2 separate regions of the Homo sapiens genome follow, and region 1 is linked to region 2. The links come from fine-mapping of genetic effects on gene expression. A gene starts in region 2. The other region holds a variant in brackets. All regions are shown on one strand. Distances are between the middles of the regions.

Region 1 (15,332 bases), 49 kb after region 2:
ATGGTCTTGTTGGCTTCAGGAATGAAACCACAGACCTTTGTCGTGAGTGTTACAGCTCAAAAAGGTAGTGCGGACCTAAACACTGAGCAGCAGCAAAATTCATCATCAAAAGCAAAAAAACAGAACCAGGGAGCATCTTCGTTGCTGGCTCGGGTGGCCAGCTTTTATTCCCTTATTTGGCCCCACCCACATCCTGCTGATTGGTCCATTTTACAGCACGCTGATTGGTCCATTTTACAGAGTGCTGATTGGTCCATTTTACAGAGTGCTGATTAGTGCATTTTTACAGTGTGCTGATTGGTGCATTTTTACAGAGTGCTGATTGGTGTGTTTACAAACCTTTAGCTAGACACAGAGCACTGATTGGTACATTTACAATCCTTTAGACAGGAAAGTTCTCCAAGTCCCCACCTGGTTAGCTAGACACAGAGCACTCATTGGTGTGTTTTTACAGAGTGCCGATTGGTGTGTTTACAAACCTTTAGCTAGGCACAGAGCGCTGATTGGTGCATTTACAATCCTTTAGCTAGACAGAAAAGTTCTCCAAGTCCCCACCCGACCCAGAAGCCCAGCCAGCTTCACGCCTCACTGTGATAGCAACATGCCAGGACTTAGCCCCTGCACCAACACCCAAGGAAGAAGTGAAAGGACAGCTCTTTGGCACGAGGTGCTCCAGCCAGGCCCCTTCGAGTTTCCTATGACCCGTCATCGCTTTGACCTGCCTGGGTCCCTGAAGGGCCCTAACAGAGGAGGAAGGGCTCTTCTGGCAGGGGAAGAGGCCTGTTTCTCCCCTACCCCAGTAGTCATGGGGCCAAGCTTCAAAGTGCCTGAAAGGAGCACAGTAGGGGATGTCTTTACAGCCTAGGAGGAAGCCACAGGAATGGACTATTTCACTGATGGGGTAGCCATGCCCACATGCCCCAGCAGGCCAGCCTGGACTTGTACCTTCTGCTTGCCTGGGATCTTCCCCTGCAGACCGCCCCCGGCAGTCAGTTCCACACCAGGAGCCCTCAGCCAAACGACCACCATCCCCTCTGTCCGTGCTGACCCAATGCCCAGGCACAGTCCCAGCCCCAAGATGGGCCCAGTGATGAAGTGGCTGCCCCTTCACTTCCTCAGCAATCCCCGGTAGGTCCCGAGTACAGGCCAGACCTCCCTGCGAGGGGCACGTCCCCCTCAGATCTCAACCCAGGTGCCCTGAGTTGCCCTGCGTGTTTTTAGACATCTTCTATTCTGCGCCCTGGCTCTGTCCCCCCCATCTGTGTGTATAACCCTCTCTATTCCTGCCCGCTCCTGCTCCCTCTTCCTCCATCTTCCCTTCCTTCCTTTCACTGACCCCACACATACTGTCTGAATGCCTACTGTGTGTCGGCCACCAGGCACTCCCCAGGGGATGAGGCGAGCAGGGTCCACATGTGGGCCAAGACACAGTCAAAACCACTCAGAGAGCAACGAGCCCTTCTGGGTTTGTTTGTTTGTTTGTTTGTTTGTTTGTTTGAGATGGAGTTTCGCTCTTATTGCCCAGGCTGGAGTGTAGTGGGTTAATCTCGGCTCACTACAACCTCCACCTCCCGGGTTCAAGCGATTCTCCTGCCTCAGCCTCCTAAGTAGCTGGGATTACAGGCATGGACCACCATGCCCAGCTAATGTTTTGTGTTTAGTAGAGAGAGGGTTTCACCATGTTGGTCAGGCTGATATCAAACCCCTGACCTCAGGTGATCTACCTACCTCAGCCTCCCAAAGTGCTGAAATTACAGGAGTGAGCCACTGCGTCTAGCTGAGCCCTTGTGTTTTAAGCTGCAATGTGGGACAAAAAGATACCAGGCAGCAACTGTAGGGAGGGTGGCCTTGGAAGGCCTTTCTAAGGAGGTGACAGTCACACTGAGATCTAGAGGCAAGGACACCCGCTTTGCAAAGTTGTCGGGGAAGAGAAGTCAGGCAGGGGAACAGCAGATGCAAAGGCCTGGAGGCAGAGGCTGAGATCCTCCCGAGGACCAGCCCCTGGCCTCGGAGGTGGTTGGCCCTCAGTGACCAGAGAAAGAACAGTCTTTGCTGGTGTCACACAGCAAGTACGAGGCAGGGATCTAGGTAAGAAACCAGACCCTGCCAATACTACGTCTCATGTTCCTGCCCTGGCCACTGAACACTTGCTGAAGGCCACCCTTATTCACCGATGACAGTGTAGGATCGGTGAGGCCACCAGCAACCATTAGCGTCTGCCCAGAGCTGGGGATGGTCCCAATCAGATGCTCAGCTCCAGCTGGGAAAACAAAAGCAGCACCACATCCCCACTGTCTTTGCCATGCTGTTGGGGACGTTGGCCAGTATTGGATCACCAGCTGAGGCACACACACTTTTTTTTTTTTTTTGAGACGGCATCTCACTCTGTTGTCCAGGCTGGAGTGCAGTGGCACAATCTTGGCTCACTGCAACCTCCGCTTCCCAGGCTCAAAGTGATCCTTCCACCTCAGCCTCCGGAGTAGCTTGGACTACAGGCAGGCACCACCATGCCCGGCTAATTTTTTATATTTTTTTGTAAAAACAGGGTTTTACCAGTTTGCCCAGGCTGGTTTCAACTCCTGAACTCAAGTGATCCTCCCACCTTGGCCTCCCAAAGTGCTGCAACTACAGGCATGAGCCACTGCGCCTGGCCAGGCACATGCTGAGAGAGAGAGCCATCTGCCAACAGCTCATGCATTCACTTACCAGTGATGTCATTTGCCTGTGAGCACCCACCATGTGTCAGGCACGGGGCTGGGGCCTGCCCGGCCATTCCATCACCTCCTCCAGGCTTCTGTATCTGCGCCCCTGTCCCTGAAATAGCATTTCCACCTGCCTTGGATGCTCTCTGAAAAATGCTCCCCAAAAGATGTTCATATCCTAATCCTGGAACTCATGAAGGTTTCTGCTATGGTTTGAATATGTTCCCCAGATTTCACGTGTTAAAACTTAATCGTGGGAGGCCGAGGCAGGCGGATCACGAGGTCAGGAAATCAAGACCATCCTGGCTAACATAGTGAAACTCTGTCTCTACTAAAAATACAAAAAATTAGCTGGGCGTGGTGGCGGGCGCCTGTAGTCCCAACTACTCAGAAGGCTGAGGCTGAGGCAGGAGAATGGCGTGAGCCCAGGAGGCGGAGCTTGTACCACTGCACTCCAGCCTGGGCGACAGAGTGAGACTGTGTCTCAAAAAAAAAAAAAAAAAATACTTAATTCCAGCTGGGTGTGGTGGCTTATGCCTATAATCCCAGCACTTTGAGAGGCTGAGGTGGGAGAATGGCTTGAGGTCAAGAGTTCAAGACCAGCCTGGGCAACATAGTGAGACCCCCCCATCTCTAGCCCCCCTAAAAAATGATTTAAAAAATCCCCAAATTCATATGTTGATTGGAGGTGGGGCCATTGGGAGGTCATTAGGATTAGATGAGGGCGTCAGGGTGGGGCCCCATGATGGGACTTGTGGCTTTATAAGAAGAGGAAGAGAGACTTGAGCTGGCACACTCTTGCCCTCTCGCCATGTGACACACTGTGCCGTTTCCTGACGCTGTAGGAAGGCCCTCACCAGATGTTGGCACCATGCTCTTGGACTCCCCAGCCTATAGAACCATGAGCTAAATAAACTTCTATTGCTTATAAACTACCAGTCTGTGATATTCTGTTATAACAACAGAGAATACACTAGACAGAAAATTGGTACTGAGAAGTGTTGCTAGTAACAAATACCCAAAAACACAGAAGCAGCTTTGAAATGAGTAGCATTACCCAATGGGCTGGAAGAATTTGGAGAAGCAGGCTAGAAAAGCCTGTATTGCTGTAAAAAGAGCATTAAGGGCAATTCTGGTGAGGTCTTCGAAAACAAGAAGACTAGGGGAAGTCTGGAACCTCTGCGAGATTACTTAAGTGGTCATGACCAGAATGCAGATAGAAATGTGGAGAATAAAGGCCACTCTGATGAAGTCTCAGATGGAACGGAGGAACAAGATATTGGAAACTGGAGTAAAGCCCGTCCTTGTTATAAACTGGCCAAGAACTTGGCTGGATTGTGTCTGTGCCAGGGACTCTATGGAATGCAGAATTTGAGAGCAATACATTAGGATATCTGGCAAAAGAACTATCTAAGCTGCAAAGTGTTCCGGCTGCTGCACAGCTACTTACATTAAGCTGCAAGAGGGAAAATGACTTAAAGATGAAATTTATAATCAAAAGGGAAGCAAAGCAGAAAGTCTTGGAAAATTCTCAGCCTGGCCACATAAAGAGAGAAGAGGCATGTTCAGGAGAGGGAACCAAAAGGGTGGCCCAGCAACTGTTCGCTAAGGAAATTAGTACAGGGAGAAAGATCGGCAAGAGAATAGAAGAAAGGTCGCGTGCGGTGGTTCATGCCTGTAATCCCAGCACTTTGGGAGGCTGACGTGGGCGGATCACGAGGTCAGGAGTTCGAGACCAGCCTGGCCAACATGGTGAAACCCCATCTTTACTAAAAATACAAAAATTAGCCAGACATGGTGGCGTGCGCCTGTAATCCTAGCTACTCAGGAGGCTGAAGCAGGAGAATTGCTCGAACCTGGGAGGTGGAAGTTGCAGTGAGCTGAGATCATGCCACTGCACTCGGGCCTGGGCGACAAGAGTGAGACTCTGTCTCAAAAAAATAAATAAATAAATAAATAAATAAATAAATGAGAGAATGGAAGAAAGACCCCGAAGCATTTCAAAGATCTTCCAAGCTGGCCCTCCCATCACAGACCCAGAGGCCTAGGAAGGAAGAATGGTTTTGGGGACAGGCCAGGCACCCTTCATGGATTTGCTGTCCAGGGCCCCCTAGAGTGTCCGTGCTCTCATGTAGTGTTTCCTCCACTGTCCCAGCTGTGGCACAAGCAGCCCCAGGTGTGGCTGGACCCACTGCTCTGGAAGATATAAGCCCATAGCCTTGGTGGCATCTGCATGGTGCTAATTCTACAGGCTCACAGAAAGCAAGAGCTGTGAGTATGGCAGCCTCTGCCTAGTTCAAAGGCTGTATCAGCCTTGTAGCCCAAGCAGGATTTGTTGCAGGGGTGGAGACACCACAAAAAGCCTCTCATGAAGGCAATGCCTGGTGGAGCTGAGGCAGTGAGACCATCACCAAGACCCGAGAACTGTACAGCTACCAGTGTGCAACGCCAGCCAGGGAGAGCTCAAGTGTGGGCTGGGCCCAGCAAAGCCATGGAAGCCAGGCTGCCCCAGGCCTTTGGGGCCCACCCCCCACCCCAGTATGTCCAGGAGGCGGAACACAGAGTGAAGGATTATTCTGGAGTCTTAAGGTGTGATGTTTAGCCCAGGCTTGGTGGCTCACTCCTATAATCCCAGCACTTGGGGAGGCCGAGGCTGGCAGATCACAAGGTCAAGAGATCGAGACCATCCTGGCCAACATGGTGAAACCCCGTCTCTACTAAAAATACAAAAATTAGCTGGGCGTGGTGGTGCACACCTGTAGTCCCAGCTACTCGGGAGGCTGAGGCAGGAGAATCACTTGAACCCGGGAGGCGGAGGTTGCAGTGAGCCAAGATCATGTCACTGCACTCTAGCCTGGTGACAGACAACAACAAAAAAGATACAATATCTACCCTGTTGTGTTTGGGCTTCTTTGGGACCATCTGCCCCTTTCATCATGCCTACTTCTGCTTTTTGGAATGGGAATGTCTATCCAATGCCTGTGCCACCACTGTATTTTGGGAGGAGATAACTTGTTTGATCTCACAGGGTCACAGCTGGAAGGAATTCATCGCAGGATGAATCGTACCTTCAGTCTCACCCATATCTCATTCAGATGAGACTCTGGACTGCAGACTTTTGAGTTGATGCTGGAGCAGGTTAAGACTTTGGGGCTTTGGGGATGGAATGAGTACATTTTGCATGTGAGGACATGCATTTTGGGGCCCAGGGCAGACTACTGTGTTTTGAATGTGTCTCCTAAATTTCATGTGTGGGAGACTTAATCCCCAAATTCATATGTTGATTGGAGGTGGTGCCTTTGGGAGGTAGTTGGGATTAGATGAGGTCATTGGGGCAGGGCCCCCAGGAAGGGACTGATGACTTTCTAAGAAGAGGAAGAGGCTGGGTGAGGTGGCTCATGCCTGTAATCCCAGCACTTTGGGAGACTGAGTGGGTGGATAGCTTGAGCCCAGGTTTTTAAGACCAGCCTGGGCAATGCAGTGAAACTTCATCTCTATAAAAAATACAAAAATTAGCTGGGTGTGGTGATTTCGTCCACACGTACTGCAGTCCCAGCTACTCGGGAGGCATGAGGTGAGAGGATTCCCTGAGCCTGGGGAGGTGGAGGCTACAGTGAGCCGTGATCACATTGCTGCCCTCCAGCCTGAGCAATGGAGTGAGTCCTGTCTCCAACAAATTGTTTAAAAAAGGAGAGGACGAAAGACCTGAGCTGACAGCTTCTGCTCTCTCCCATGTGAAGCCCTGTGCCATGGAATGATGCCATGAGAAGTCCCACACCAGATGCCAGTGTGATGCGCTTGGACTCCCTAGCCTCCAGAACCATAAGCATATAAACCTCTATTGTTTATAAATGACCCAGTTTGTTTTATAGAAACAAAAAACTGAGACAGTTTTCTTACATGGCAAAAAGCGGGGTGGGTCTATCAGGTGTGACTGAGGATTCTGAGATGAGGAGATTGTCCTGGGGTATCGGGGTGGGCCCTGAATGCCATCACTAGTGTCTTTATAAGAATGGGGAAGCAGGCCATGGGTGGTGGCTCACGCCTGTAATCCCAGCACTTTGGGAGGCTGAGGTGGGAGGATCACCTGAGGTCAGGAGTTCAAGACCAGCCTGGCCAACATGATGAAACCCTGTCTCTACTAAAAATGCAAAAAATTGGCCGGGCACGGTGGCTCACGCCTGTAATCCCAGCACTTTGGGAGGCCAAGGCGGGTGGATCACAAGGTCAGGAGCTTGAGACCAGCCTGGCCAATATGGTGAAACCCCATCTCTACTAAAAATACAAAAATTAGCCAGGCGTGGTGGTACACACCTGTAGTCCCAGCTACTCGGGAGGCTGAGGCAGGAGAATTGCTTGAACTCAAGTGGCAGAGGTTGCAGTGAGCTGAGATGGCGCCACTGCACTCCAGCCTGGGCAACAGAGTGAGACTTCATCTCAAAAAAAAAAAAAAAAAATTAGC[C/T]GGGTGTGGTGGCACGTGCCTGTGGTCCCAGCCACTGGGGAGGGTGAGGCAGGAGAATCGCTTGAACACAGGAAGCAGAAGTTGCAGTGAGCTGAGATTGCACCACTGCACTCCAGCCTGGGTGACAAGAGTGGAACTCCATCTCAAAAAAAAAAAAAAAAAAAGAATGAGGAGGCAGAGTGATGACCACACACAGAAGAGAAGACAGGGTGCAGATGGAGTGGAGAGACCTCCAAAGATGCTGGCCTGGAAGACGGCAGTGATGTGGCCACAAGCCAAGGAAGGCCGGCAGCTGCCAGAAACTGGAGGAGGCGAGGAACAAGTCTGCCCTAGAGCCCTGCAGAGGGAGCACGGCCCTGCAGACACCTTGATTTCTGCACAGTGACACTGATTTCAGGCTTCTATCCTCCAGAACTGTGAGAGAGCAAATTTCTCTCACTTGTGGCAATTCATTACAGCAGGAAACAAACACACTCGCTAACCCTTTACTCCAATTTACCAGCGCCCTCCTCTGCTCCTGCTTATGGAGTGTATGTCATTCCCAGCTGGAATGCCAACTGAGGGCAGGGTTTTAAGAGCCTTGTTTTTCACTGCACCCTAGGGCTCACAGCACCAAACACAGGTTGAATGCACAACGAATGAATGAATGGAGGAACCAGTATTTTTTCATTTTTCAAAAGTAATAATAACTTTTACATGAATGTGGGCTTAGGCATATGCTTAGAAAAAGTCCCAAGGGGGCCGGGTGCAGTGGCTCATGCCTGTAATCCCAGCACTTTGGGAGGCCAAGGCAGGCAGATAACGAGGTCAGGAGAGCAAGACCATCCTGGCTAACACGGTGAAACCCCGTCTCTACTAAAAATACAAAAAGTTAGCCAGGCGTGGTGGCGGGTGCCTGTAGTCCCAGTTACTCGGGAGGCTGAGGCAGGAGAATGGCGTGAACTCAGGAGGCAGAGCTTGCAGTGAGCCGAGATTGCACCACGGCACTCCAGCCTGGGCGACGGAGCGAGACTCCATCTCAAAAAACAAAAACAAAAAAACAAAAAAACAAACAAAAAAAAGTCCCAAGGGAATCTACACAAATTTCTACCAGCACTTAGCACCAGGAATGAAACTACAGAAAGCTTCACATTCCACAGTGAACACTTTTGAGGGATTCAAGAACCTCTATTAATTGTTATCAAGAAACCAAATAAGAAAAGCAAACCATAAGGCCGGGTGAGGTGGCTCATCCCTGCAATCCCAGCACTTTGGAAGGCTGAGGCAGACAGATCACTTGAGCTCAGGAGTTCGAGACCAGCCTCGCCAACATGGCGAAACCCCAAAACCCCATCTCTACTGAAAATACAAAAAATTAGCCAGGCGTGGAGGTGAATGGCTGAGGCATGAGGATCACTCGAACCCAGGAGGCAGAGTGAGCTGAGTGAGCTCAGTGAGCTGAGATCGCACCACTGCACTCCATCCTGGGTGACAGAGCGGGACCCTGTCTCAAAAAAAAAAAAAAAAAAAAAGGCAAACCATGAAGAGGAGAGGAGCACCATTTTTTCCAAAAGGGTGATTCTCTATGGAGTTGGGGTCTGGAGAGCATCTGCTTGAATGGAAGTCGCCAACAGGAAGAAAGCCATGCTTTGCAGAGGCCTCACTAGCCTGGAGAGCCACCAGGGCCCTCAAGGGCAATCAAAGTTCCCATCATTGGACTAAGAGGGGCAGGAACGTCCACCTGTCTTTCCTCAGATAAGAGAAGGGGCTCTTGGAGACTTTGGGGGGCCATTTAGACGTTGAGAGCTTAGTTCCTACACCACAGTTCCTACACCACTGATGGCTGCTGCCATGTTTTATTGGCGACCTGCTCCGGGCCAGGCACGTGGATTGTTTTTAATCATCTCGGCAAAATCTCAAGGTGGGGCCAGTCTTTGATTTATGGAGGAGAAAACCGAGACTCTGAGAGGTGGTTTGCTCAATGTCACACAGCTGGAAGGTGGCAGAGGTGAGAGGGGCCTCTGGTCTGCACTGACCCTTCTCATGAGGCCACATATACCCACTACCATCTTAGCGCATGTCTCGGGGTCTGTAAGGATTTTCCACACTCGGGCAGTGCACCTTCTGGCCATTCCTGGGTCCTTGCAACACTGGTATCTCCCCAGTTCACCAGTCGTTTAAAAATGCTTAAGGGAGTTCAATTCTGCCCCAACACCAGGCAAACAGTGCCACCTGGCGGATGACAAGGACAGTACAGGAATTACCATGTGCCCTTGGGAAACTGTCCCCAGGCAGTTGTGATTCTAGGCCAAGGGCAGAGTTGTTTTCTTTGACTTCATAAGAGGGGCAGGAGAGGAGGCCCACTGTTACCACAGCTGAAAATCAGAGGGCTGGCCCTGTCTGGGTGCTTCTGACAGCGAACCCAGACTTTCTGGGTCCCCTCTATGGTATCCTGCCAAGAGATCATCCAGCTTGGGCTTAAATACGTCCAGGGTGGGGGTCTCACTCTCCATGTGTCTTCATCACAAAGTTCTTGCTATCTCCGTGTAACATCTACTCTTGGCTCTTGCTCTACTTCCACGAAGAGCTCATCAACCTTTCTGCCCTCTGACAGCCCTTTGGAGGATCCAGGGAGCTCCACTTTCTCCTCCAGACTAAGCAGCCTCCATCACTGCTCTCAGGACAGGAATCTGGCTCTTCTCCCTGAAGTCATGCTCCTCAGGTCTTCCTGGCTTGAGTGCTTGTGGTTGGGAAGTAGGATGGGAGGGGCAGAGACAGCTTCATTTTGCTGTATCCGATAGTGGAAGTGCTCTTCTCCCGACACCTGCCATGGCTGGAATCTTCTCACCATTCAGGTCTCAGCTCAAATATTACCTCCTTGGTAAGGCCTTCTCTGACCACCCTGGGCTCAAGTAGCCTCCCCAGGCCCACCCTCAGCCAAACCAATGGCACGTTTGCAGCCTGCCCCACCCCCACCCCCAACCTGGCCATGAGCTCCACAGGACAGGGATTTGTCTGTTGTGTTGGGTATTGAGTCCATGGCCGTGGAGCAGTGGCCAGCATCTGCTGGCTTGATCCTCACCGGGATGAAGAGCAAGGTAGGGCAGTGGCTCCACTGGGCTCCTCCAGAAGCAGAGCCTGGGATAAGGGCAAATAGTTAATTTGGGAGATATCCCCCTAAAATTCTTTTTTCTTTTCTTTTTTCTTTTCTTTTTTTTTTTTTAAGAGACAGAGTCTTCCTCTGTTATCCAGGCTGGAGTGTAATGACATGATCATAGCTCACTGCAGCCTTGAACTCCTGGGCTCAAGCGACATTCCTCAGCCTCCCAAGTAGCTGGGTCTACAGACGTGCACCACCGTGTCCACCTAATTTTTAAAATTATTTTTGGTAAAGACAAGGTCTTGCTTTATTGCCCAGGCTGGTCTCAAATTCCTGGGATCAAGAGATCCTGCTGCCTCAGCCACCCAAAACACTGAGAATTCAGGTATGAGCTACCATGCTTGGGTATCCCCCAAAATTCTAATGTTGAAGTCCTAACCCCCAGAACCTCAAGAGTGTAGTTGTCCCTTGATATCCACGAGGGATTTGTTCCAGGACCCTCACAGTAGATACCAAAAATCCAAGGATGCTCAAGTCCCGTGTATAAAATGGCATAGTGGCCAGGCGCAGTGGCTCACGCCTGTAATCCCAGCACTTTGGGAGGCCGAGGTGGGTGGATCACCTAAGGCCAGGACTTTGAGGCCAGCCTGGTCAACATGGTGAAACCCCGTCTCTACTAAAAATACAGAAATTAGCCGGGTGTAGTGGCACACACCTGTAATCCCAGCTACTCGGGAGGCTGAGGCAGGAGAAATGCTTGAACCTGGGAGGCAGCAGTTGCAGTGAGCCAAGATCGCACCATTGCACTCCAGCCTGGGCAACAAAAGCAAAGCGCCATCTCAAAGAAAATAAATAAATAAATAAATAAAATGACATAGTATTTGCATATAACCTAAGTGCATCCTCCCATGTACTTTAAATCATCTCTAGATTACTTATAATGTCTAATACAATGTAAATACTACATAAATAGTTGGTATACTATATTTTATTTGTATTTTTGTTGTTGTGTTGTTATTTTAAATTAATTTTTTTTTCTCGAATATTTTCAATCCATGGTTGGTTTGATCCCTGGATACCAGAGAGCCAACTGTAACCTTATTTGGTGATAGGGTCTTTACAAAGGTCATTAAGTTAAAATGATGTCAGTAGGATGGGTCCTAATCCAGTACGAGCCATGTCCTTATCAAAAGGGGAAATTTGGACACACACACACATAGAGGGAATTCTGATGAGGTGAAGAGACACAGGGAGAAGACGGCACTGATACGCTGAGGAGAGAGGCCTGGAATAGAGCCTTCCCGCACACTCCTAGGAAGGGCCCTTCCTTGCCAACACCTTGATCTTGGCCTCACGGCCTCCAGACCATGAGAGAGTGACGTTCTGTTGAGGCCCCCAGTCTGTGATGCTTTGTTACAGCAGCCCTGGCAGACTAACACAGGCACCCACTGCACCTGCACAGACAGGGCCGTGGATCCCTTTACAGGTGAGAAGGCTGAGCCAGGGGAGGGAGGTGACTTGTCCCTGGTCACTCAGAACCAGGCAGGCCACAGACCCAGGTCTCTGAACTCAAGACAGGAGGATCAAGCCCCCAATCCCAAGCCCACCCCACTCCCCAACATAACCCCAGTGGCCTGACGATGGGCCCCTGACCAAGGGTAAGCATTGGAAAGCCCAGCCTCGCTCGGGTAGGCCTGGGGACAAAGATGCACATGCACACACCCCGCTCAGGCCTCACTGGGAAGTGGATGTGGGGCAGGGAGGAAGTGGGGGCCTTTGGGACACATGGGAGCAAGGTGGGCTTCCAAGACAACACCCACCACCAAAAATCACCAACCCAGATGTGCCCAGGCACCAAACCCCAAATGAAGGTCTGACCAGAACGGCAGCTGATGAACACTGCCCAGGGATGCAATCGCTGATTCAGCTCACGCTGAGCTCAGCCCCAGGGCCCCCGTGCCCTCAGTGAGCTCAGCATCTTATGGAGGACGTGTGTATGCAGACAGCCGCAGAAGAATGCTTATTCCTGGGACAGGTCAACGCCTCAGAGCCTGTGGGAATCCGGGGGTGCCCTAACCAGAACAGAGTGTCAGGGAAATCTCCCTGGAGGAGGTGGCCCTGGCATGAAGTTTTGAGAGACAAGGAAGCATTAACTGCCACAGTGAGACACCACTTGATGGTCACTACCAACAAATGGGAAATATGTGTTGAAGAGATGTGGGGACCTAGAACCCCCGTGCGCTGCTGGTGGATGTGTAAAATAGCAGCCACTATGGAAGATAGTGTGTTGATCCCTCAAAAAGCTAAACATAGGCTGACCACATGACCCAGCAATCCCACTCCTAGGTGTATACTCAGGAGAATGGACACATCCACGTGAAGACTTGTACATGAGTGTCCATAGCAGTATTATTCCTAACAGCCAAAGATGGAAACGACCCAGGTGTCTATCAACGGATGAACAGGCAGATAGAATGTGGTATGTCCATACAGTGGAATATTATTGAGCCTTGAAAAGGAATAAAGTTCATTTTATTTTACTTATTTATTTATTTATTTTTGAGATGGAGTTTTGCTCTTGTTGCCCAGGCTGGAGTGCAATGATGCCATCTCAGCTCACTGCAACCTCCGCCTCCCAGATTCAAGCAGTTCTCCTGCCTCAGCCAGCCAAGTAGCTGGGACTACAGCCATGTGCCACCAGGCCTGGCTAATTTTTTTGTATTTTTAGTAGGGAGGGGGTTTCACCATGTTGGCCAGGCTGGTCTCGAACTCCTGACCTCAGGTGATCCACCCACCTCACATCCCAAAGGGCCGGGATTACAGGTATGAGCCACCACGCCTGGCCAGTTTTTTAAAAAAGGAACAAGGTTGGTCGGGCCTGGTGGCTCACGCTTGTAATCCCAGCACTTTAGGAGGCCGAGGCTGGTGGATCACCTGAGCTGTCAGGAGTTCGAGATCAGCCTGGCCAACATGGTGAAACCCCGTCTCTACTAAAAATACAAAAAATTAGCCAGGCATGGTGGTGGCATCTGTAATCCCAGCTACTTGGGAGGCTGAGGCACGAGAATCACTTGAACCCAAGAGGCAGAGGTTGCAGTGAGCCAAGATCGCATCACTGCACTCTAGCCTGGGCAACAAGAGCAAAACTCCATCTCAAAAACAAACAAAAAAGGAATGATGTCCTGATCCATGCTACAACATGGATGAATCTCAAAAACATTTGCCTAAGCAAAAGCAGCAGACACAACAGCACATATGAGTCCATTCATATGGAATGTCCAGGATGGGCAAACCCACAAAGACAGAGAGCACATGCATGGTTGCCAGGGGCTGGGCAGGGGAAATGGGGAGGTTCAGGTTTCCTTCTGGGGTGATGAAAAGGTTCTGGAACTAGATAGTGGCAGTTGCACAACATCGTGAATATCCCCCAAACTACTGAATTGTACTCTAAAATGGCTACAATGGTGAATTTTATGTGAATTTTACCTCAATTAAAAATTTCAGAAAGAGGCCGGGTGCAGTGGTTCACGCCTGTAATCCCAGCACTTTGGGAGGTCAAGGCAGGCAGGTCACCTGAGGTCAGGAGTTCGAGAGCAGCATGGTCAACATGGTGAAACTGCGCCTCTACTTAAAAAAAAAAAATACAAAACTTAGCGGGACGTGGTGGCACGTGCCTGTAATCCTAGCTACTCGGGAGGCTGAGACAGGAGAACTCTTGAACCTGATGGAGGTTGCAGTGAGCCGAGATCGTGCCATTGCACTGTCCAGCCTGGGCGACAGAGCGAGACTCCGTCTCAAAAAAAAAAAAAAAAAAAAAAAAAAAAAAAGAAAGAAAGAAAAACAATTCATCGGCAAAGAAGGGAGAAGAGAGTCCCAGGCAAGGGAAAGGGCCGGCACAGAAGCCAGCAGCGCGGGATGGCTTCTGGGAGCTGCAGACTGCCCAGAGCACTGGCAAGAGAGAAGGCTGGACACGGCCCTGAGTGCCAGGAAAGGGATTTAGAATTTCCTCTGCGCCAACAGGCAGCCCACGGTGGCTCTTCAGCAGGGAAATGGAGTGGTCAGATTTGCACACTGGGAAGGCTTCTAGGGCTTCGAAGGAGAAGGGGGATGTGCGGGGAGGGAATTGGAGGTGGGTTCAGGGGCTGAGAGGGGGAAGGGTGATGTGGGGGTAGGGATAATTGGAGGTGGGTTCGGGGACTGTGAGGGGGAAGGGGATGTGAGGGTGGGGATTGGAGGTGGGTTCGGGGACTGTGAGGGGGAAGGGGATGTGCAGGGGAGGGGATTTGAGGTGGGTTCGGGGCTGCAGGGGGAAGGGATGGGGCCAAGGAGTTAGGAAGGGGAAGTGAGGAGAAGTGAGGCACTAGGAAACCCAAGATTGAAGAGAGGGGACGTGGGAGGTGAGGGAGAGAAAGGAGGGAGACAGGTTAGTGGCTCAATACTGGGGCTCACCAGGGTGGAAAGCCCTAGGGCAGGAGCGCTCTGGGAAGAAGATGAAGAATAGGTCCAGAATATGAGTCGGAGGTGCCTGAGAGACATCCAGGTAGGGACAGGAGGGTCAGCCTAAGGGGAGGGTCTGGGCTGGTGACAAGACCCTGGGCTCAAATCTGAGGGCTTGGAGAGTACAGGTGCCAGATGATTGAGATCTCCCAGAACGACAGATCTGAAACCTTGTGACACCAACAGCGGTGGTTTCATGGGCTCTGAAGCCAGTGGCCTGGGCTCGAATCCGAGCACTGCCATTTACAAGCTGCATGATGTTGGGCGAATTACTGAATCTCTCTGAGTCTCCTTCCCCTGTTTCTAAAGTGGAAGGAATCCATTCCTATCTCACAGAGTTGCTGGGAAGATTCAGTTAGTTAATATTTGCCCAGGGCTTAGGTCAGTGCCTGGTGACTGCTTAGCAAATGTTAGCTACTATTTAGTAGCTAACTAATGATTCTTATTCAAGAATCATTTAGGGATCTTATTAAAGAGAAAGAGTCCTGGGCCCCACCCCCAGAGATGCTGGCTGAGACAGAGTCAGATGTGGCCTGGGAATCTGACTTTGGTTTTTTTTTTTTGGAGACAGTGTTTTACTCTGTTACCCAGG
Region 2 (15,332 bases):
AGGCAGCTGCTCCAGTTCCCTAGATCCATAACTCCTTTCAGGAGGGTGAAATGTCATTCATTCTTCAATTAACAAGTGTGACCTGCACCAAACTCAAAAGGCACTGACAGCTCACGTGCTCCAGCAGGGGTGGGTGTGGGGCCCACGGGTAAGACGGTGCTTCTCAAGGCCCTGCTCGCCTCCACGCTGGGCTGCCTCTTCTCACTCCTCTGCTGGTTGTGAGCTTCACCCCATTTTCTTTTTTCTTTCCTTTTTTTTTGAGATGGAGTCTCACTCTATCACCCAGGCTGGAGTACAGTGGCGCGATCTCTGCTCACTGCAAGCTCCACCTCCCGGGTTCACGCCATTCTCCTGCCTCAGCCTCCTAAGTAGCTGGGACTACAGGCGCCCGCCACCATGCCCAGCTATTTTTTTGTATTTTTAGTAGAGACAGGGTTTCACCGTGTTAGCCAGGATGGTCTCGATCTCCTGACCTCATGATCCGCCTGCCTCGGCCTCCCAAAGTGCCGAGGGATTACAGGCGTGAGCCACCGCACCCGGCCCAAACCTGGCTAATTTTTTTTTATTTTGTAGACATGGAGTCTCACCACATTGCCCAGTTTGGTCTGGAACTCCTGGGCTCAAGTGAGTCTCCCACCTCGGCCTCCTCCCAAAGTACTGAAACTACAAGTGTGAGCCACCAAGCCCAGCCATCTTCCTTTTCTTTACCTTTACCTTCCAGGGCCCAGGACAGAACCTGCTAGGTGCTACTGTGTCTCTGTGTAAATACACATTGTATTTTGAAGACAATAGTAACAATAAGCCAGCCAACCTTCACTCGGAAGTGAACCAGCTGCCAAGCTCTGGCAAGGGACTTGCAGGAGGCAGAACAGAGTGCTGATGAGACAAGGACGCCCGTGCCACGGCGGGCAGCCATCTCCCCTCGCTGAGCACCGCTTCCTAGCCTGGGAGGTGGGAATGGTAGAGGTGCCATGGGACGCCAGGAGGATTAAATGAGAAAGTGCAAGGAAAGCACTCAGCGCAGTGCCTGGCGGGGGGCATGGCTAGACAGACGCTGGCTGTGACAACTGTGTCATCGAGTCCTGGTGACAACCCTGCGAGGCATGCCCACTCTTCAGATTAAGAACTGAGGTGAGTGGCCAGGCGCGGTGGCTCACGCCTGTAATCCCAGCACTTTGGGAGGCCAAGACAGGTGGATCACCTGAGGTCAGGAGTTCAAGACTAGCCTAGCCGATATGGTGAAACCCCGTCTCCACTAAACATACAAAAATTAGCCGGGCGTGGTGGCAGGCGCCTGTAATCCCAGCTACTCTGGAGGCTGAGGCAGGAGAATCGCATGAACCTGGGAGGCGGAGGTTGCAGTGAGCTGAGGTCATGCCACTGCACTCCAGCCTGGGCGACAGAGCGAGAATCCATCTCAAAAACAAACAACAACAACAAAAAGAAGTGAGGTGAGGTATGAAGCAAAAGCTGACAGAACTAAAGGGTGGAAAAGACAAATCCACAGTTCTTGTTAGGGCCCTCCATGGTCCTCTCAGTGACTGAGAGAATCAAAGCAGTGGACAAGAAGGCTGCTGGAGCTGGCAAGGTCACCAAGTCTGCCCAGAAAGCTCAGAAGGCTAAATGAATATTATCCCTAATACCTGCCACCCCGCTCTTAATCAGTGGTGAAGAACGTCTCAGAACTGTTTGTTTCAATTGACCATTTAAATTTAGTAGTAAAAGACTGGTTAATGATAACAATGCATCATAAAACCTTTAGAAGGAAAGGAAAATGTTTTGTGGACCACTTTGGTTTTCTTTTTTGCCTGTGGCAGTTTTAAGTTATTAGTTTTTAAAATCAGTACTTTTGAATGGAAACAACTTGACCAAAAATTTGTCGGGCCGGGCGCGGTGAGTCATGCCTGTAATCCCAGCACTTTGAGAGGCTGAGGCGGGCGTATCATGAAGTCAGGAGATCGAGATCATCCTGGCTAACACGGTGAAACCCCGTCTCTACTAAAAAATTAAAAAAATTAGCTGGGCGTGGTGGCAGGCGCCTGTAGTCCCAGCTACTCGGGAGGCTGAAGCAGGAGAATGGCGTGAACCCGGGAGGTGGAGCTTGCAGTGACCCAAGATGGCGCCACTGCACTTCAGCCTGGGCGACAGAGCGAGACTCCGTCTCAAAAAAAAAAAAAAAATTGTCACAGATTTTTGAGACCCATTAAAAAAAATCTAATGAGAAAGAAAGAAAGAAAAAGAAAGAGAAAAAGAAAGAAAGAAAAAGAAAAAGAAGGAAGGAAAGAAAGAAAGAAAGAAAAAGAAAGAAAGAAAGAAAGAAAGAAAGAAAGAAAGAAAGAAAGAAAGAAAGAAAGAAAGAAAGAAAGAAAGAAAAAAAAAAACGCAGGTGGAAAATCGGGAGGACGCAGCTGACCTGAGCAGCGCCATCCAGTGGCTGGACCTGACCACAGCACATGGCAGCCTTGGGAACAGCCTGCAGTCTCTGGTGTCACCAAAACAGATCACACTTGGGGCCACCAAACAAACCTTAAATTTAAACGAATAGAAAGCATACACAGTATGCTCCCAAACCACCACAGAATTAAACTCGAAATCAGTCACAGAAAGCGATCGTGGAAAGAATGCACGCGAGGGCCAAATGGGAAGTCTTGGGAAATCTAGAAACATTTTGAACTGAATGAAAATGAGAATAGAACACATGAAACCCTGTGGGATGCGGCTAAGGCAGGGCTTCTATTAGTAAGGAAGAAAAGTCCCAGGTCAGGAATATAAGCTTTGCCCTTAAGAAATTACAGAAAGAGTGGCTGGGCGCAGTGGCTCATGCCTATAATCCCAGTACTTTGGGAGGCTGAAGCAGGCAGATTACTTGAGGTCAGGAGTTCAAGACCAGCCCGGCCAACATGGTGAAACCCCATCTCTACTAAATATACAAAAATTAACCAGGCGTGGTGGAGGGCGCCTGTAATCCTAGCTACTTGGGAGGCTGAGGCAGGAGAATTGCTTGAACCCGGGAGACGGAGGTTGCAGTGAGCCGAGATTGCACCACTGCATTCCAGCCTGGGCAACAGAGGAAGACTCCGTCTCAAAAAAAGAAAGAAAGAAATTAGAGAAAGAGGAATGAGTTAAACCCAAAGGAGGCAGGACAAAAAATTAAAGATAAGCAAAAATCAATCAAATTGAAAACAGGAAAACAATAGAGAAAAAAAAATTACACCCAAAGCTGGTTCTTTGGGGAAAATTTATTTTCCCAATAAAACTGAGAAACCTCCAGCCAGCCTGACCAAGAAAAAAAGAGAAAAGACACAAAATATCAATATCAGAAATAAAAGGGGGGACTTCTCTACTGACCTCACAAACATTAAAGTAATAATAAGGGAATACTATGAATAACACAAATTAAGTAACTTAGATGAAATGAACCGATCCTTGCAAGACACAACTGTCAAAATTCATTCAAGAAATAATCCTTTATCTTTTAAAGGATTTGAATTTATGGCTTAAAAACCTAAAAAAAGAAAGCCTTGAGCCCAGATGGTTTCCTGGATGAATTCTGCCTAACATTTAAGGAAAAAATAATTCCAATTCCACACAATCTCTTCCAGAATATGGAAGAGGGAGGCAATACTTCCCAACTCACTGTATTACCCTAACACTAAAACCAGGCCGGGTGCAGTGGCTCACCGCCTGTAATCCCAGCATTTTGGGAGGCCAAGGTGGGTGGATCACTTAAGGTCAGGAGTTTGAGACCAGCCTGGCCAACAACCCTGTCGCTACTAAAAATACAAAAAACAAAACAAAACAAAACAAAAACCAGGTGTGGTGGTAGGTGCACCTGTAATCCCAGCTACTCGGGAGCCTGAGGTGGGGGAATTGCTTGAACTCGGGAGGCGGAGGTTGCAATGAGCTGGTATCACGCCACTGCATTCCTGAGTACATGCCTGAGCAACAGAGCGAGACTCTGTCTTAAAATAAATAAATTAATTAAATCAAATGAAACCAGATAAAGAAAGAAGATCCCCCCAAAAATTAGAGCAAATCAAATCCAGCAATATATACAAAGGATAATATGTTAGGACCAGCCAGAGATCACCCCAGGAATCCAGAGCTAGTTCAACATTCAAAACATCAATGGAATTCATATTTACAGCTTAATGAGGAAAAACAGTGTCATCTCAACAGAGGCAGGGGAAACAAGCTCCAAGAGTTTCTGTCATTGTTTTGATGAGCAGCCACGGAAAGCCTCAACCCTGCTCTGTCTTGGCTGATGCCAAAATTACTGAAGACAAAATGTACGGCCTTGAAAACACCACAGAGTAACTCATCTAATATAACGGCCTAATGTTTATTTCAACTAAAGTAATACAATCAAAAGATTTTTGGAAACGATTTTGGATAAAGGCAAACATTTTTCCCTGAAAGGCAGTCAAGATACCCCGCATCGGCCATCGGAGCTTTGCCTCCAGGGTCTTACTCGGGTGCCCATATTACACACAGGGACCTGTGTCCCCTGCCCCAGGTCTCTCAGCCTTCTGAATACAAGGGCTTTGCCTTCTTGAGGACCACCCTTAGGTGGGCTGCACTCGATACTTCATAAAGCTTTACACCCCTCATCTCATTCTGGTCTTCACCATAACCCCCTCACTGTCCCCATTCTTCTTGACACCAACACCAAGCTGGAGACATCATCACTCACCCGCTCTGGTGAGCAGGTGATTCGCTATGGAAAAGGGACCTGAGACCTGGGCATGTGCCCTTGCTCTGAGGACCTCAGTGTGCTCTGCCAGCCTGGGTGCCCGCACCCCTAGGCCCTACTGGAGTCATCTTCTGAATCCTGGAGGTGCCCCGGCCTGTGGACAGCAAGATGCAGACCCTGCTCTCATCCATCTGCCACCCCACTGCCTTCAGGCAGCTGCCCAGCTGAGGAGCAAGGCTCCAGAATCCTGACAGGGAGGGCAACAAGGAGCAAAAGGGCCTTAGTCAGTGGGGCTGCAGCGGGCACACTCCTCACCCTAACTCCTCAGCCCAATGGCTGATTCTTTGGGTTGTTTGTTTTTGTTTTGAGACAGAGTTTCGCTCTTCTAGCCCAGGCTGGAGTGCAATGGCGTGATATCAGCTCACTGCAACCTCCACCTACGGGGTTCAAGTGATTCTCCTGCCTCAGCCTCCCGAGTAGCTGGGATTACAGGCATGTGCCGCCACGCCTGGCTAACTTTTTATATTTTTAGTAGAGATGGGATTTCTCCATGTTGGTCAGGCTGGTCTCAAACTCCCGACCTCAGGTGATCCACCTGCTTTGGCCTCCCAGAGTGCTGGGATTACAGGCGTGAGCCACCGTGCCCAGCCCCAACAGCTGATTTTTTTTTTTTTTTTTTTAAAAACAAAAGCAAGATTCTGTACCTGCTGAAGCAGGCCCAGAAAAGAGCTGGTGGAGGGCATGGTACCCAGAGCAGCACTGTTTGGTATGACATGGCAGCCACTGGTCACAGGCAGTGCCACAAGCTTGGAATGCCACAGGACAAAATATGTCTGATATATATTTTGGTAACAATAAAATATATTGTCAAAATTATTTTTCTATTTCTTTGCTATTTTCCATTTCTTCTCACTAATTTAACATGGCTACTAGAAAGGTTTAAATTATGCATGTGGCACACGATGTTTCTACTGGACAGCACAGCAGCACAGGGCTAGCACCGGAGATCCTGCAGCTCAGACGCCCATGGGGTGAACAAAAACCTTGCAACTCTCCCAGGCCAGGGACTGACATATTTTAAAACCGGAGATTTTGATTGAGGAGGGAGTAGAGCTACCACATAAGCAAATATGTAATGTTGTATGTTGTATGTTTCTTTCTTTCTTTCTTTAAGAAAAATCCCTTGGCAACAGGAAGCTTAACTGCACCAACAAGGACAGCAGAAGAAAAGCAGAATGTTAGTCAACAAGGGTCACCCTGACCCGAACCCCAGCCCCAGCTCTCTCCAGCTGCACAGCCCTGGGGAGAAAGGAGAAAGAGCAGAGAAGCCCACCCCTCACACACCCGGTTAGTCTCCCCTGCCCACTGGCAGGCCCTGGGGCAGGCCCCTAGATGGGTCTGCAAAGGGACACTGCCCCCTTGCATTCTGCCCCCCCTTCTACATGGCTCCCCCACCCACCCTTCTACACGGTGGCTTCTGAGGGCAGCCCCTGGAGGTGATCATGACCCCCCATCTTGATCTGAGGATTAACAGATACAGGTTCACCTGGTGAAAATGCAGGAGCTGTAGGGGTAGGACCCATCACTCATCTGACTGCATGTTGTAATTCAATGGACAGTTTACTAAAGTAATAGTCTTCTTCCTGTCCTCTGCTGAGCACCCATCTGGCCAACGGTCCTGCGCTCCCTCAGGGCCAGCGGCCCATCTCCTCCTGTGCCTCCTGGAGGGCTTCGCAACTGCCTCCCTCCTCTGGGGAATCTTGCCCCACTGACTGACCTTTCGGCTCTCAGATCCCAGGTCCCTCCCTCGCAGATACGGCAACAGGCTCTCTTGGGATTTCAATCCCGCCTTCCCATCAGCTACTCTTCAAAACACTAACTGGTATTAGCTCCTTCAGAGAACTCTCTGGCTTTCCAGGCCTACAATCTCCCTCCCTAGAATGAAAGCTCAGTGACAGAAGTGCCCTTAAACTTCTGAGTGACACGAGGCCCTCAGCCGGCCCTGAATCAATACTGGCTGGATCAGTGAGTGAATAAATGCACATGTGAGTAAGGAATGAAGGGAGCGAAAGAACTGGATTAGAAGCTGCTTGGGGCAGAGATGTGCCTTACAGGCTTCATGAAGAGTGGGTGATGAAAAAGGTAAATGGAGCATCTAAGAGGAAGCTTTGATAGAAGGGAGAATGCAAGAGAGGTTGGAAATTGGAATCCATTGGAATTGGGAGCCTGGGGAGATGCCAGGACAGGCACTCTCTGGCCTAGGACTCTGCAGAGGGCAGCCTCAGCAGGCAAGCCAGGCCCCCAGCTTCTGGGGCCGGTCGCACCCATTATGGCCCCGAAACGGCTGGGTGGTGGTCTGCAGCCTGCCCAGGGCCGGCTGGGAGACAGGCAGGGTCCCCACCACTCTCTTGCCTCTGGGCAAAAGCTGGCCTCCTGACCCTGGGGGATGGACGGGAGCAGGGGCCACACAACACACTCCCAAACATATAATCGGCCTCCTTCACCCTCGCCCACGCTCAGTCACACACAGCCTCGGTCATACACACTCACACTCACTCTCCGGCACACTCTCAGAGCATCACATAATTTCAGTGAGACACAATCCCAAAGACTAACACGGACAACCTCTGAGTCTCACACAATCTCAGGGCCACACACAGGCACACAATCAGACGAGCTCAGGAACGCCCCCGTCTCTGACACACGCAATCTGAGGTTTACACGCGCGCGCACACGCACACACACAGACACCAGCCGGCGCTCCCGCACGCGGCTCCCCCACCCCCGCCACGCCACGCCCCCATTGCCTGGGAACTGGCGGCCCCGCCCCGCAGCGTTTGAGGCGCCGCAAGCCTTCACGCCCCTCGGGCCTTGCAGATCCCTCTCCCAGTTTCCGCGGCGGTCCGGTGCGGTCAGTACCTGTCTAAAATCAATATTGCCGAGGCCTCCGCAGCAGTCAGGCCCTGCCACCGAGCTGTTCGTTACCTCGGCTCCCGGGTTCCCAGATCTCTTCATCCGGGGGCCGCCTCAGGAGGCACCACGCGGGCCCCGCTGCAGCCACGCGCCCCCGGAACCGGACCTATAGAGCCGGGTAAGTGCCGCCAGTCGGGGCGCTTTCCCGGTGACCCCCAACATATTCCGGCCTTCTGGGAAATGTAGTTCCCCGTCACCGCGAAGTGCCTCTTTATCTGGGGGCTCGCGACAGCGTCTAGAGGAGCCGAGAACTACAAGTCCCAGTGTGTTTCGCCGCAGAGCCTGCCGGTTCCGCTGCAGCTACGTAGCAGTATCCCCTTGGATCCGGCCTCCCGCCCAGTGCCTTTGGTCGCCGGCTGCCGCACCCGAGCCTGTAACTGACCTGGCGTCCCTGCCCTTGCCTGGCGGCGGTGGGGCTAGAGGCCGGGGGCCGCGGGTCGTAGCTATAAGCAGCTTCCCGCGCAGCCTCCTGCGGACTTGGACTTGGCCCGGGTCACACACGCCCAGGGCCCCACACGCCCAGGGCCCCACGCCCTCTTCTGAAATTCGCTTTACTCTGGGGGCGGTGCGCGACGAGCACTGCCTAGAGCTTCCCGCCCCCGCGGCGCCCAGGCTCTTTAGCTCGGCCAAAGACCCCTCCTCCACTCATTTTTTCCTTCATTCATTCTCTCATTCACTCTCGAGTATTTTCTGAACCAGACTGTGCGCTGAGGGTACGGTAGGGAACAACACAGAGTCCCCCGCCCTCGCTTCCTCCTGACTGAGATAAAAGACAAAATGTGAATAAAGGGTTATAATATGGATGAGTACTGTGGTGGAAAAAACGGGGTGGGTCAAATGGTACGGAAGGATGCTGTCTTAGAATGTGCAGGGGAGGTGCCAGATGTGCCAAGTGTGAGGGCAGGGCAAACAAGGCAAGACGAATGGTATGTACAAAGGCCTGGAGACAGGACGGGCACCTAAGGAACAGAGAAAAGACCGGTGAGCTGTGGAGTAGTGATGGAGGGGGTCAAATGGAGAAGAGTTTAGACGATCGGGTCCCAGAAGAACCCCTTTTGTAGGCCGGGTGTGGTGGCTCATGCCTGTAATCCCAGCACTTTGGGAGGCCGAGGTGGGCGGATCACCAGAGGTCGGCAGTTCGAGACCAGCGTGACTAACACGGTGAAACCCCGTCTCTATTAAAAATACAAAAAATAGCCGGGTGTGGTGCGCGCACCTGTAATCCCAGCTACTCAGGAGGCTGAGGCAGGAGAATCGCTTGAACCCAGGAGGTGGAGGTTGCAGTGAGCGGAGATGGTGCCATTGCATGCCAGCCTGCGCGACAGAGCGAGACTCCCTCTCAAAAAAGAAAAAAGCCCTTTTGTAGCCAGGTGTTATGTAATATGGGGAAATAGACTGAGAGGTTCCAAGATTTGCTCAGTCACCCAGACTGCTGGGGGCCCAGACAGGACTTCTGCAGTCAGCTGCTTCCTGCTCCAGATGGCCCGTTTCTCTCCACCTTGGCCCACAGCACCTACCAGTGTTGAGCATTTACTGAGCAGCCACTGTGTGCTGCTTTAGAGGTAGTCCCAATCTTCACAACATCGCTAGGATGGGGCAGGCCAACCGAGGAGACAGGAAAGACACTGGCTTTGGAGCATGCACTATCTCTGTGACTGAGCCCACCTTCATTTTCCTCAAAAGTAAAAGGGAAATACATGTTGGTAAAACTCATCACCCAGGAACTGGCCTGTGGGAAGTGCTCAGTAGGCATTGGCCCCCGGCAGGGCTGGGGACACAGGCTCAGGGCTGGTTCTCTGACTTACCACTGTTACTAATGAGTGTCGGGACCCTTTCCCTGCTCAGTGTCCAGGCAGAGCTGCTAGAGGCAGAGCCATTTCTGAAGGAGCCCCCCGCAGCGGGAGGGCTTCTAGCAAGTCTTTCCCCTCCGCCTACCACACATCCACTTCACTGATGTTCCAGTCTTCTGACCTAACTGGTCACTCCTGTTTTGTTAAGCCCAGAAAACAAATTTTTGTGCGTTTGCTTTATCTGAGAACAAAGTAAGGCAACCGTAAGAGGTCACACCAGAACTGATGCAGTCCGATCCTCTACTCCAGCCTACCCAACCTGGGCCACCCTTCCTCTGTGAAAAGCAAACACCCCACCCAGGAGACAGACTTGCAGCTTGAAACAAGTCAGATAAAAACCTCCTGCCTGGCTCACACCTGGAATCCCAGCACTTTGGGAGGCCGAGGCAGGCGGATCATGAGGTCAGGAGTTCAAGACCAGCCTGACCAACACAGTGAAACCCCGTCTCCACTAAAAATACAAAAATTAGCTAGGCATGGTGGTGCACACTTGTAATCCCAGCTACTCAGGAGGCTGAGTCAGGAGAATTGCTTGAACCCAGGAGGTGGAGGCTGCAGTGAGCCGAGATCGCGCCACTGCACTCCAGCCTGGGCCAGGCTGGGCATGGTGGCTCACGCCTGGAATCCCAGCACTTTGGGAGGCCAAGGCGGGCAGATCACGAGGTCAGGAGTTCGAGACCAGCCTGGCCAGCATGGTGAAACCCCGTCTCTACTAAAAATACAAAAATTAGCCAGGCATGGTGGTGCACACCTGTGATCCTAGCTACTAAGGAGGCTGAGGCAGGAGAATCACTTGAACCTGGGAGGTGGAGGTTGCAGTGAGCCGAGATTGCACCACTGCACTCCAGCCTGGGCGACAGAGATTCCATCTAAAAAAATAAAAATAAAAAACCCTGCCAAAGATACTTTGGGGCACAAGTACTTGCCTGAGCCTTTCAAAAGTTCCCAAGTCTGAGAGCTTGTAGAGAAATTATCCAGGCCAACCTCCCTCACTGAAACATTCCTTCTGTGGCATCTTGGGCAAATGGAAAAGTTGGTTCTGCTTACGTGCCGCCAGTGATGAGAGGTTCCCCACCTCTTGAGGTCGCCCGCTCCACTGATGGACAGGGGTCCATTAACCCAAAGTCATGATACCCATTAACCCAAAGTCACCCTTCCTGAAGCTTTAACAAACAAAAGTTCCTTTCTACCTTCAGGGTTATCTCTCTTTGCCCCTTGATTGAGCTCTTCAGATATAGGAAACCATTTATCATGGAACAGCTCCCAGGGCAAACCTCCTGATGGCCTCTCTTTTCTCTAACCCCACCTCCCTGGCTCCTGAATTATGAATCAGGCTGCAGAAACTCCCAGCAATCATTAAAATGGGGTTTTAGTGCTAAAATTAACATGTGTTTATTGGGTGCCTTTGGGTAAAACCTAAACCTTTCCCTACTCTGAATCTATTTTCTGTTCATAAAACATAATAATATTTATATCATAGAATATCTCTTGAGTATAATATCTCGAGTGAGGCTGTTGTGAGGATTAGAGGTAATAACTCGTACAAAAGTGCCTGGCATACAGTGGGTTCTAAGAAAATGTCCAGGCCAGGCGCAGTGGTTCATGCCTGTAATCTCAGCACTCTGGGAGGCCAAGGCAGGCAGATTGCATGAGCCCAGGAATTCGAGACAAGCCTGGGCAACATGGCAAAACCCCATCTCTACAAAAAAAAATACCAAAAAAAAATTAGCCGGGTGTGGTGCACGTGCCTGTACTCCCAGCTACTCGGGAAACTAAAGCGGCAGGATCACTTGAGCCCAGGAGAGAGAGACTTCAGGGAGCTGTGATTGTGCCACTGTACTCCAGCCTAAGTGACGAGAGTGAGACCCTGTCTCCAAAAAAAAAGAAAGAAAAAAATGTTTCTCTCCTTTCTATATAATTGAGATCTGGTGGTTAAGGTCACACTCATGGACATGCTGCTGGGATTTAGGACACCACTGGGGGCCAGGAGAGCTGGCTGACAGCTCAGGGACCTGCCAGAGTTCCTGGGAGGAGATGGGTGGGCAGGGGCCAGGATGGGTGGCCAGAGCTGCTCCCCAGACAGCAGGTACTGCAGGTTATCAGAAACCATATTGTCACTGGGAGTGCTTTAAAACCAGGAAGGTGGTGAGGGGCTGTGGCCGCAATGCCCAGCACCCACTTCATAGACTCAGGCCTGATTGCCCTCATTCTACCCCTGGTGGCTCCAGGAACAAGAGGGTAGCCAGGGTGGGAACTGGGGCAGGGGAGAGGTCATCTGGAGATGTGTGCCCTGATCACGAGTTCCCTCCCCACTCCCATCTGCCCTGAGCTTTGGAAGAAGCCCCTTCCCCAAGGACCTACTACTTGCTGGGAAGAGGGCACGGGAGTGAAGTTACCTGAACCCAGTTGTCCACAGCCTAGGCCAGCCTGGGAAACACCAGCAAGGATGTTGGTGCTGGCAGGGCCTCACTGCCCCTCAGTGTCCACAGTGTCCACAGAGCACAAACCCCTGCCTTCCAGCTGGCCTCCAGAGGTCCTAAACACCCCAGGTATACACCCACCACAGGGCATTTTCATGTGCTATGTCCTCCGCCTGGGTTGCTCTTCCCCGCATTTCCTCCCAGTACCCTCCTCACCTCCTCTGGGTTCTGCTCAAGTTCCACCTCTCCACCCTGTTGAACATGCTGACTTCCCCATGCTCGCCATGGGCCTCTCCCAACTTTATTTCTCTCCATTGGCCATATCATTTAACAAATGTATTTAGTGCACTTATTTATTTTGTATAGTGTCATTCCCTGTCCATCCCCTATCCCCTATAAGGGGAACTTCACCAGGGCAGAGATTTTTTGTTTGTTTGTTTTTTGAGACGGAGTCTTGCTCTGTCGCCCAGGCTAGAGTGCAGTGACGTGATCTCGGCTCACTGCAACCTCTGCCTCCCGGGTTCCAGCAATTGTCCTGCCTCAGCCTCTGGAGTAGCTGGGACTACAGGTGCGCACCACCACACCCAGCTAATTTTTCTATTTTTTAGTAGAGACAGGGTTTCACTATATTGGCCAGGCTGGTCTCAAACTCCTGACATCAGGTGATCCACCTGCCTCAGCCTCCCAAAGTGCTGGGATTACAGGCATAAGCCACCACCCCTGGCTTTTTTTTTTTTTTTTAAGAGACCCCTGGGTTTAAAATCCTGGGCCCAAGCGATCCTCCTGACTCAGTCTCCGGAATAGCTGAGACTACAAGTGCATGCCACCATGCCCGGCTAAGGGCAGGGATGTCTTTTTTTTGAGATGGAATCTCACTCTGTCACCCAGGCTGGAGTGCAGTGGCATGATCTCAGCTCACTGCAACCTCCCCTCCACCCCGGGTTCAAGTGATTCTCCTGCCTCAGCCTCCCAAGTAGCTGGGATTACACGTACACACCACCATGCCCTGCTAATTTTTTTGTACTTTTAGTAGAGATGAGGTTTTGCCATGTTGGCCAGGCTGGTCTCGAACTCCTGACTTCAGGTGATCCGCCCGCCTTGGCCTCCCAAAGTGCTGGGATTACAGGCATGAGCCACCATGCCCAGTCCTGAGGGCAGGGATTTCTATCTGTTTGTACACAGCCCTGTCCTGGGCACCTAGCTCTGGCACAAAGCAGGCATTGAATATACAATGAGTGAATGAATACTGTAGCTCTGCCACTCTGAGTTGGGTGATCTTGGGAAAGCCACTTTTCTGGGCCTCAGTGACCGTGTCTGTGGAATGGGGAGGGTGACCAAGTCTGTTACCTAAATAAGAGACCAAACCCACCTATTAAGATTGAAGTTCGGCCGGTTGTGGTGGCTCACGCCTGTAATCCCAGCACTTTGGGAGGCCAAGACGGGTGGATCACCTAAGGTCAGGAGTTTGAGACCAGCCTGGCCAACATGGTGAAACTCCGTCTCTACTAAAAATACAAAATTAGCCAGATTTGATGGGGGGCACCTGTAATCCCAGCTACTAAGGGAGGCTGAGGTGGGAGAATCACTTGAACCTGGGAGGCGAAGGTTGCGGTGAGCTGAGACCATACCATTGCACTCCAGCCTGAGCAATAAAAGCGAAACTCTGTCTCAAAAAAAAAAAAAGATTAAAGTTCCTGGCTGGGTGTGGTGGCTCACGCCTATAATCCCAACATTTTGGGAGGCCAAGATGGGTGGATTGCTTGAGCTTAGTAGTTCAAGACCAGCCTGGGAAACATGGTGAAGTCCTGTCTCTACGAAAAAAAAAAAAAATTAGCCAGGCATGGTGGCGTGCACCTGTAGTCCCAGCTACTCAAGAGGCTGAGGTGGGAGGATCACTTGAGCCCGGGAAGTTGAGGCAGCAGTGAGCCATGATGGCTCACTACACTCCAGCCTGGGCAGCAGAGTGAGACCCTGTCTCGGAAAACAAAACAAAACAAAACAAACAAAAAAACAAAAAAAAAACCTAAACATGGAAACAATAGCTAATCTGTCTGAGCTCTTGCTGGCTGCAGGCCCTGAGCTCAGCACTTGAAGCACACATTTTCTTTAAGCCTCACAAGAGCCCTGTGAGGTAGGGAATGTTATTCTGACTTTCCAGATGAGGTAATTGACTCATGTGGAAGGTACTGGCCCACAGTCACACAGCTGAGTGTCAGAGTTGAAACCTGTGGTCTGATGAAGGCAAAACATTCTTCCTTACAATGGCCCTGAGGTCCTGGATGGTCCGGGCCCAATCCACCTTCCCAGCTCTTCTTGCCCTCTGTACTCCAGCCACACTGGCCTCTTTGAGGTTCCTTCCAGCCACAGGGCCTTTGCACCTCCTGTTCACTCTGCCAGGCACACTCTTCCCTTCTCTTCTTGGAGATCAAGAATGGTCCCCTCATCGTCTGCCCTGCCCACCTCCACATCCCCTGCCAGCAGCCAGTACACACCTGGCACCCAGATGGCACTGGGTGAATATTTGCTGAATGAAGGAGGTCAGAATTGAATTTAAGTCCCATGAAAATATACTTCAAAAATGAAGGTGGCCGGGCGCAGTGGCTCACCTGTAATCCCAGCACTTTGGGAGGCTGAGGTGGGCGAATCACGAGGTCAGGAGATGGAGACCATCCTGGCCAACATGATGAAACCCATCTCTACTAAAAATACAAAAAAATTAGCTGGGTGTGGTGGCATGCACCTGTAGTCCCAGCTACTTGGGAGGCTGAGGCAGGAGAATCACTTGAGCCTGGGAGGCAGAGGTTGCAGCTGAGATTGCGCCACTGCACTCCAGACTGGTGACAGATCAAGACTCCGCCTCAAAAAAAAAAAAAAAAAAAAAAGGAGGCAAAAAGGCTGGGCACGGTGGCTTATGCCTGTAATCGTAGCACTTTGGGAGGCTGAGGCGGGCGGATCACCTGAGGTCAGGAGTTCGAGACTAGCCTGGCCAACATGGAGAAACCCCATCTCTACTAAAAATACAAAAATTAGTGGGGTATGATGGTGCATGCCTGTAATCCCAGCTACTTGGGAGGCTGAGGCAGGAGAATCACTTGAACCCAGGAGGCAGAGATTGCAGTAGGCCGAGATCGTGCCACTACACTACAGCCTGGGTAGCAGAGCAAGACTCTGTCTCAAAAAAAAAAAAAAAAAAAAAAAAAGCAGAGGCAACGTAAAGCTATTTTCAGACAAACAAAGGCTGAGAGAATTGATCACCAGCAGGCCCAACCTGAAAAGAAATACCATGGGCGGGTTCTGCAGGCAGCAGGAAAATGATCCCAGTTGGAAGCCCACGAACACAGGAAGGAATGAAAAAGACACATACGTGTAGGTAAATCTAGATAAGTATTAGGTGCT

Evidence for each region. PIP is the estimated chance that this variant, and not a neighbour inherited with it, causes the effect.
Region 1: its variant is fine-mapped to the expression of PEMT in whole blood (TOPMed, PIP above 0.99). The same link has a PIP of 0.9 or more in blood mononuclear cells and monocytes.

What each region holds. Positions count from the first base shown.
Region 1 is chr17:17,632,622-17,647,953 of GRCh38, forward strand. No RefSeq gene overlaps it. Among named protein-coding and RNA genes, the nearest start is that of SMCR2, 37 kb to the right of the region's middle. The variant C/T (reference allele first, on the strand shown) is at 7,165.
Region 2 is chr17:17,583,919-17,599,250 of GRCh38, forward strand. PEMT (phosphatidylethanolamine N-methyltransferase) reads right to left here and starts at 7,790. Exons shown (of 7, transcript NM_148172.3): 1 at 7,613-7,790. The coding sequence starts at 7,708. It also overlaps the pseudogene EEF1A1P43. RefSeq lists enhancers at 7,235-7,976, 7,542-7,931.